Linked DNA regions of Homo sapiens. The protein of the gene in region 1 binds, or shares a complex with, the protein of each later gene. Each region holds a gene or a part of one and is shown on either strand. Other genes may lie near its edges.

The links.
Region 2: SRRM1 (region 1) and PPIL2 share a complex: the UniProt entries of both Homo sapiens proteins name them as parts of the minor spliceosome.

Annotation. Positions count from the first base shown.
Region 1 is NC_000001.11:24,667,156-24,670,711, reverse strand, and holds part of SRRM1 (serine/arginine repetitive matrix protein 1), read right to left. Parts: intron 1,590-3,556; coding exon 1,125-1,589; intron 593-1,124; coding exon 397-592; intron 1-396. UniProt on the Homo sapiens protein: Part of pre- and post-splicing multiprotein mRNP complexes. As a component of the minor spliceosome, involved in the splicing of U12-type introns in pre-mRNAs. Involved in numerous pre-mRNA processing events.
Region 2 is NC_000022.11:21,689,765-21,693,580, forward strand, and holds part of PPIL2 (RING-type E3 ubiquitin-protein ligase PPIL2), read left to right. Parts: intron 1-1,620; coding exon of another isoform or gene 1,621-1,729; exon of another isoform or gene 1,730-2,414; intron 2,415-3,816. UniProt on the Homo sapiens protein: Has a ubiquitin-protein ligase activity acting as an E3 ubiquitin protein ligase or as an ubiquitin-ubiquitin ligase promoting elongation of ubiquitin chains on substrates.

The DNA.
Region 1 (3,556 bases):
AGCCTGGTCAACACAGCAAGACCCTGTCTCTACAAAAAGTTAAAAACAAAAAACCAGCCAGGTGTAGCAGCATGTGCCTATAATCCCAGCTACTTGGGAGGCTGAGGCGAAGGGATCACCTGCGTCCAGGAAGGCTGCTGTGAGCTATGATCATCCCACTGCACTCAGCGTGGGTGACAGCATGAGACCCTGTCTCAAAAACAAACAAAAAACAGATGGACACCTAACCACTGATTTTATGCAATACAGAAACCTGCCCAAGATCAGATGTATAACTCACAAATGGGAAAAAAAGTTTAAACACCAATATTTTAATGCCCCAATGACATTTTCTCTGCTTCAAAGTGACCATATACATATTTATAAAAGGGTGTCCAAAATAAGGCAGACACATACTCTTGGCGGTGATGGGCTCGGTGTTGGGCTTTTGGCCTTTTTGACCGGTACAGCTGGTGACCAGTTTGTAGACGGTGACTGAGACTGGACGGGGGATGGAGGTGCTGGGGGCTTTTTAGCTGCTGGCTCAGGAGACCCGGAGACAGATCGGGAGGATGAGACCCTTCTTACAGACTGTGGGCTTGGGGAAGCAGCCCTAGACAAAAAGGAAAAAACATTCAGCATTGAGAACAGCCATCTCTCTTCACATGAGAAAACCACCAACTACACTGTACAACCAGGTTATGAATTTCAAATATACCACTTAGATTGCTGGTTGATTCAACTAACATATATCCAATTTACATTACCTATGTTTCCCAGAGGGTGGCTAAAGCCCCATAATCCTCTATCTATTCTGTTAATGATGCTTCTTATGTAAGATTAGTAATGTCAGTTCCTTACATCACACACAAGAAATGTTCAATGTCTTACTCAAGTTTAGTTTTGGAAGCATACCCCTCAAAAACAAATTAATAACTGCTAAGAACCAAGTAAAAGCCTGTGGCATTTAACTTATACCACAGAAACTATCCCAAAAAATGGAATAAGATCTGTAAATAGTACCTCAAGTTTGACTTAAAAGCTCATATTCATAACTTATTCCTTTTATATGGGGGTGGGGGGAAGCTTCCAAATATAAACAGCTATGTAAGTATTCCTAATGGAAAAGCATAAAATATTTTTACTTTTTTATCTTTTTAGGTTCCGGAGTCCTGGAGACTCTCCTAATGGGCCTAGTACTTGGAGACGGGGACTGCCTTCTTTGGGGTGATGACGACGCTCCTCTTCGAACGGGTGGAGGACTTGAGGAGGTCTGAGGAGCTCGAGGCCGTGGTGAGGGCGAATGCCGTTTGTTTGGTTGTGGTGATCGGGCCTCCCGGGTAGAGCGGCTTGGGGAAGACCCTTTCCTATGCTTGGATGATAATGAAGGTGAACGTCTCTTGGTGACTGGGGAGCTTCTTTGTTTGGGAGGTGGAGAATGGGAGACCCGCCGCTTTGGTGGTGGAGATGGTGATGCTCTTCGTTTAGGAGGGGGAGGAGGTGAAGCCGTTCTTCTCTTTGGAGGTGGAGAAGGAGAGTATCTCCTCTGTATTGGAGGAGAGTATCTTCTAGGAGAAGGTGAGCGCCGACGTGGGGGAGGAGAAGGAGTCCTAGGAAAAAGATACATAATTAAGCTGAAAGGCTCAACAAAATACAGAAACAGGATGAAAAGTAATCAGTAGGTTTGGCTATACTGTAGTTAGCACTAGGCAAAGGGAATATATTTATAAGTGAACATGCTATCTTTATATTCTCACTTAAATATCAATAAAACTTGTTTATCTCAGCTGACTGCAACACAGGACACTGTCTGCAGGACTAAGTACAAAAAAGAAAAAAAGACATTTTGATTAACAAAAATTTGCAATTTTCAGAAGATGTGAATTTGTCAATCTTTTAACATCTATACAAAATTAACGTTTTTTGAAAACAGAATCTTGCACTGTATTAACTGAACATCAGTTATTATATAATAACCAAGTAACTGTATTAGCAAAACTCTATTATGGTCACCTTAGGAAGTCTGCACTTTAAAGAGGTCTCCTATGTGGTATCCTCTCTGAATGAGCATTTGGACACTGTATGAATAATTAAGAGTTCACTGCACAAGCCTTAAAGACACTTCTACCTCCCCTCAAAGAGACTGTTCCATTTTCTGTCTCAAAAGGCCACTTTTCAGGCCAAACTGCCTAATTTCCTCTTGGATATTGCAGACTTTTAGATCAAAGTAAATTCCTGCCCAGAGTTAGCTTTACAATAGGCCATATATTTTGGCAATGTGGTAGGGCACAATTTCATCACTGTATCTGGGTAATTACTTAGTAATTCTCAACTCCCATTTCCTCACCTGAAAAATGCAAACAATACCAACTATCAAGCAAGGTCGCTTTGAAGACTAGTAGTAAAGCATATAAAGCACCTAGCACTTTGCCTGGCACTTAACAGGCATTCAAGAGTGGCAGCCAGGCTGGGCAGAGTGGGTCACACCTGTCATCCCAGCACTCTGGGAGGCTGAGGCGGATCACCTGAGGTCAGGAGTTTGAGACCAGCCTGGCTACCATGGTGAAACCTCATCTCTACAAAAAATACAAAAACTGGCTGGGTGTGGTGGCAGATGCCTGTAATCCCAGCTACTCGGGAGGCTGAGGCAGGAGAATCGCTTGAACCCAGGAGGCGGAGGTTACAGTGAGCTGAGATCGGCCACTGCACTCCAGCCTGGGTGACAGAGTGAGACTGTCTCAAAAAAAAAAAAAAAAAAAAAAAAAAAGAGTGGCAGCATGTCATTACATTGCTTGGCAACATATCCGAGCAATGACATTAAAACATTTTCCCCTAATTTTCACTTTAAAATAGTTGTAAAGAAGAGCTACAAAAATAGGAGATTTGCCACTTCACCATGCTAATATTTTATATAACCATAAGAAAATTAGCAAAACTGTAAAATGAACCTCAGTGATAACTTAGTATTACTAAAATAGCAAACAACCCAGTTTTCCACTACTGAATGTCCCTTTTCTGTTCCAGGACTTAATCAATGTTCCTTTTCTGCTCCAGGACCCTACATCTCTTTAGTTCTTGCCAATCTGTGACTGTTTCTGTCATTGTCTTTCATGACTGACACTTTTGAATACTGGTCAGGTATTCTGTAAAATGACTTTCAATTTGGGTTTGTCTGATTATTTCCTAATAATAAGACTGAGGTTTGGCATAATTGGTAAGCATACTACAGAGGTATCCAGGAAATACACGATGCCAATGTTTTATTGAGGATGTTATCTTTGATTATTTAGGTAAGAGATATCTGCCAGTATCCTCTAAATTTTCTCTTTACAATTACTAGTCAATACCATCTTTTAATGTATTAACATCTTTATGACAATACATGATTCACCTGCTATAAAATCTACCTATTTACCCATTTAAGGTCCATTTAAAGTATACAATTAAATGATTTTAGTATATTCATATAGTTCTGCAGCTATTACCATCCCCATGTCCACCCCACCCTAATCTGTTTTCTATCTCTATAGATTTGTGTATTCTAGACTTTTCATATAGATGGAATCATACGTGTTCT
Region 2 (3,816 bases), on another chromosome or scaffold:
ACATTTGTTGTTGGGCTGTTTTTAGGAGGGTGGCTGACTTTTTAGAGGTTTCTTTGTTAGCATCTACTATGATGATTCTGTCCTTTTTCTGGTCCTCCCGGGATTTGTGGATGTGGCCACTACAAGGCCAGAGTGGATGGGTGTCTCCGTGGCATTCTGGGGTGAACCCTGGCCTGTCGTGGCTTCGCCGTGGCCTTCTGCCAGCTCACTGTCACACGTGGTCTCGGTTGTGTGGACTGGCTCCAGCAGGTTTTGCTGTGACAGGTGTGGCCCCTGCATGTTACGAGCAGGGCTGGCTGTGGCTTTGTGGCCTGGAATGGTTAAAATCACAGGGATGGCCAGGCGTGGTGGCTCACACCTGTAATCCCAGCACTTTGGGAGGCTGAGGTAGGTGGATTGCCTGAGCCCAGGAATTCGAGAGCAGCCTGGGCAACATGGCAAAACCCGATCTCTACAAAAAATAAAAAAAATTAGCGGGGCATGGTGGCGTGCGCCTGTAGTCCCAGCTGCTTGGGAGGGTGAGGTGGGGGGATAATCTGAGCCTGGGAAGTCAAAGCTGCAGTGAGCTAGGATCGCGCCACTGCACTCTATCCTGGGCAGCAGTGAGACCCTGTCTGGAAAAAAAAAAAAAAATCAAACGAGTCAGCTGTGCTTAACAGCTGGGCAAAGGCAGCTGGCAGCTATTCGTGCCACTTCCTTGGGGCTTTCATTTCAGGGTTAACGGGCACTTGTTTCCATGAAGGCTGGTATTCTCTTGGCCTCGCTGTGCTGACCTTTTTTTCTCATGCCTAATCACACTTTCCATTCCTCAGTCCCTTAGTGGTCTTTGAAGGGTTTGTCTGTTTTCACTTCACTTTGAAGGGTTTGTAATTGTTTTCAGTTTCTGTCTTTGCTTCTTCATGGTGCTTTTCCTCCTTCCTCACTTTAATCCATGTGTGTTTCTGATAGCCACGTCTGTCATTTTGAGGGTGCATGTTCCCTCTTCACTGCTTGCTGGTTGTTGGTAGCTTCCCTTTCAATTTCTTCTCAGCCAAGGATTGCCTAGGACTGTTGGTTATTTTCAAGTAGGTTGGGTGCGTGGTTTGTTTTTGTTGTTTGGCAGGGGCCAGGGCAGGGAATCATTTTATTATTTTTTATTTCTCTTTGGCTTAACCAGCCTGTGAAACTGCTGACAGATCAGTTGCCACCTTCTCTTTTTTTTTTTTTTTTTTTTTTTTGAGATGGAGTTTCACTCTTGTCACCCAGGCCGGAGTGCAATGGCGGGATCTCGGCTCACTGCAACCTCTGCCTCCTGGGTTCAAGCGGTTCTCCTGGGATTACAGACGCCCACCACCACACCAGGATAATTTTTTGTACTTTAGTAGAGACAGGGTTTCACCATGTTGGCCAGGCTGGTCTCCAACTCCTGACCTCAGGTGATCCACCCACCTCAGCCTCCCAAAGTGCCGAGATTACAGGCATGAGCCACCACACTCGGCCTTCTTTTCTTATTTCTAGTAGTATTTTGTGCTTTCTTGGACAACTGTTGCCAAAGGTTTGCCTATTTTACCGTATTCAAAGATCATTAGACTTTAATTTGTTACAGCTTTGTTTTCCCTTTTGTGATTCTTGTAATTAAAGATTTTCCAGGAGGAGGCCAGGCGCGGTGGCTCATGCCTATAATCCCAGCACTTTGGGAGGCCGAGGCAGGCGGATCACGAGGTCAGGAGATCGAGACCATCCTCGCTAACACGGTGAAACCCCATCTCTACTAAAAATACAGAAAACTAGCCGGGCATGGTGGCAGGCGCCTGTAGTCCCAGCTACTCAGGAGGCTGAGGCAGGAGAATGGCGTGAACCCAGGAGGCAGAGCTTGCATTGAGCCGAGATCGCGCCACTGCACTCCAGCCCTCCAGCCTGGGTGACAGAGCGAGACTCCGTCTCCAAAAAAAAAAAAAGATTTTCTAGGAGGAGCTTGCCTCAGGATGGTTCTTTTACTTTCCTCTTATCTGAGTTTAATTCTGCTTCTAGTTTCCTTCACTGTGTTAGAAATCAGCAAGAGAGGGAACTGCTTGCAGGTCAGAGCTCAGGTCTGCACCGTTGCAGATGTCACATCTGCGGACACTTGTCTGGTGGCCTCGGGTGTGGTCAGACTTGGTGGGCTCAGGAGCGTGTCCCTGCGTGGCTGGGGGGTGCATGTTTGATGCAGTGGAGGTTAAGTCCTGTGTCTCACCAGCCGGGTTGTGGGCTGTGCCTGCCTGCACCACCCTGGGGAGTGCTCCGTGCCGCCAGCGCCGGGACCCACCCCATGTCTTCCATCGTTTTCTTTTCAGCCTCTCTGGCTCTGCCCTCTGAGGGCTTTTTGAAGGCTCACAGCTGGGGTCTGTCGTGTTCTCCTTCATCCTGACAGTCTTTTTTTTTTTTTTCTTTGAGACGGAGTCTCGCTCCGTCCCCCAGGCTGGAGTGCAGCGGCGCGATCTCGGCTCACTGCAAGCTCCGCCTCCCAGGTTCATGCCATTCTCCTGCCTCAGCCTCCCTAGTAGCTGGGACTACAGGCGCCCGCCACACGCCTGGCTAATTTTTTGTATTTTTAGTAGAGATGGGGTTTCACCGTGTTAGCGAGGATGGTCTCGATCTCCTGACCTTGTGATCCGCCCACCTTGGCCTCCCAAAGTGCTGGGATTACAGGCGTGAGCCACTGTGCCTGGCCAATCCTGACAATCTTAAATGTGGACTTAATTCTTCAGGTGGTCTGTTGCGTTCTATGATCTTGTTGCTTTCTAGTTACCATTTTTTATATTTATTTTCATTTGCTTCTCTTCTCTTTCTGCTGGTTTGGAAATTAGATGTTTTACTTCTGGTCTAAGGTTAAGAAGGACATCTATTTAAAGTCCAAAGTTGGCCAGGTGCAGTGGCTCACGCCTGTAATCCCAGCACTTTGGGAGGCCAAGGCAGGTGGATCACAAGGTCAAGAGATTGAGACCATCCTGGCTAACACAGTGAAACCCCGTCTCTACTAAAAATGCAAAAAAATTAGCTGGGCGTGATGGCGGGCGCCTGTAGTCCCAGCTACTCAGGAGGCTGAGGCAGGACTATGACATGAACCTGGGAGGCGGAGCTTGCAGTGAACCGACATCGCGCCACTGCACTCCAGCCTGGGGGACAGAGCAAGATTCCATCTCAAAAAAAAAAAAAAAAGTCCAAAGTTATGAGGTAGTCTCTGCCTTCCTCCCAGACCAGGCTGGCAGAAACTCTCTCCTCGTCTCATGGCAGTGCTGTTGGCTGTTTTAATTCCACCCCATTTCCTTTTTTCTTTTTCTTTTTTCTTGAGACAGACTCTGTCGCCCAGGCTGGAGTGCAGTGGTGTGATCTCAGCTTACTGCAACCTCTGCCTCCCAGGTTAAAGCGATTCTCCTGCCTTGGCCTCCTAAGTAGTTGGGACTACAGGCACACGCCACCACGCCCAGCTAATTTTTGTATTTTTAATAGGGACAGGGTTTTACCATGTTGGCCAGGCTGGTCTCCAACTCCTGGCCTCAAGTGATCTACCTGCCTTGGCCTCCCAAAGTGCTGGGATTACAGGCGTGAGCCACTGTGCCTGGACGACCTGAGCATTTTCTTAGTCCATGTTTATTTATGTTACCCACGTTTCTTAATCCCTTGACTCCTGTTCTGGCTTTGTTGCCTCCTTTCTCCTCAGTCCTTCAACAGGTCCCTTGATGACATGGGGCTGGCTCTGGTTTTCCAGGTGTCCCCTCGTCCCAGCCACCTCCCACAGAGCTGCATGGCCAACCTGGTTCTGGGCACAGGGACCACCTGACAGGCAGTGGGCAGCAG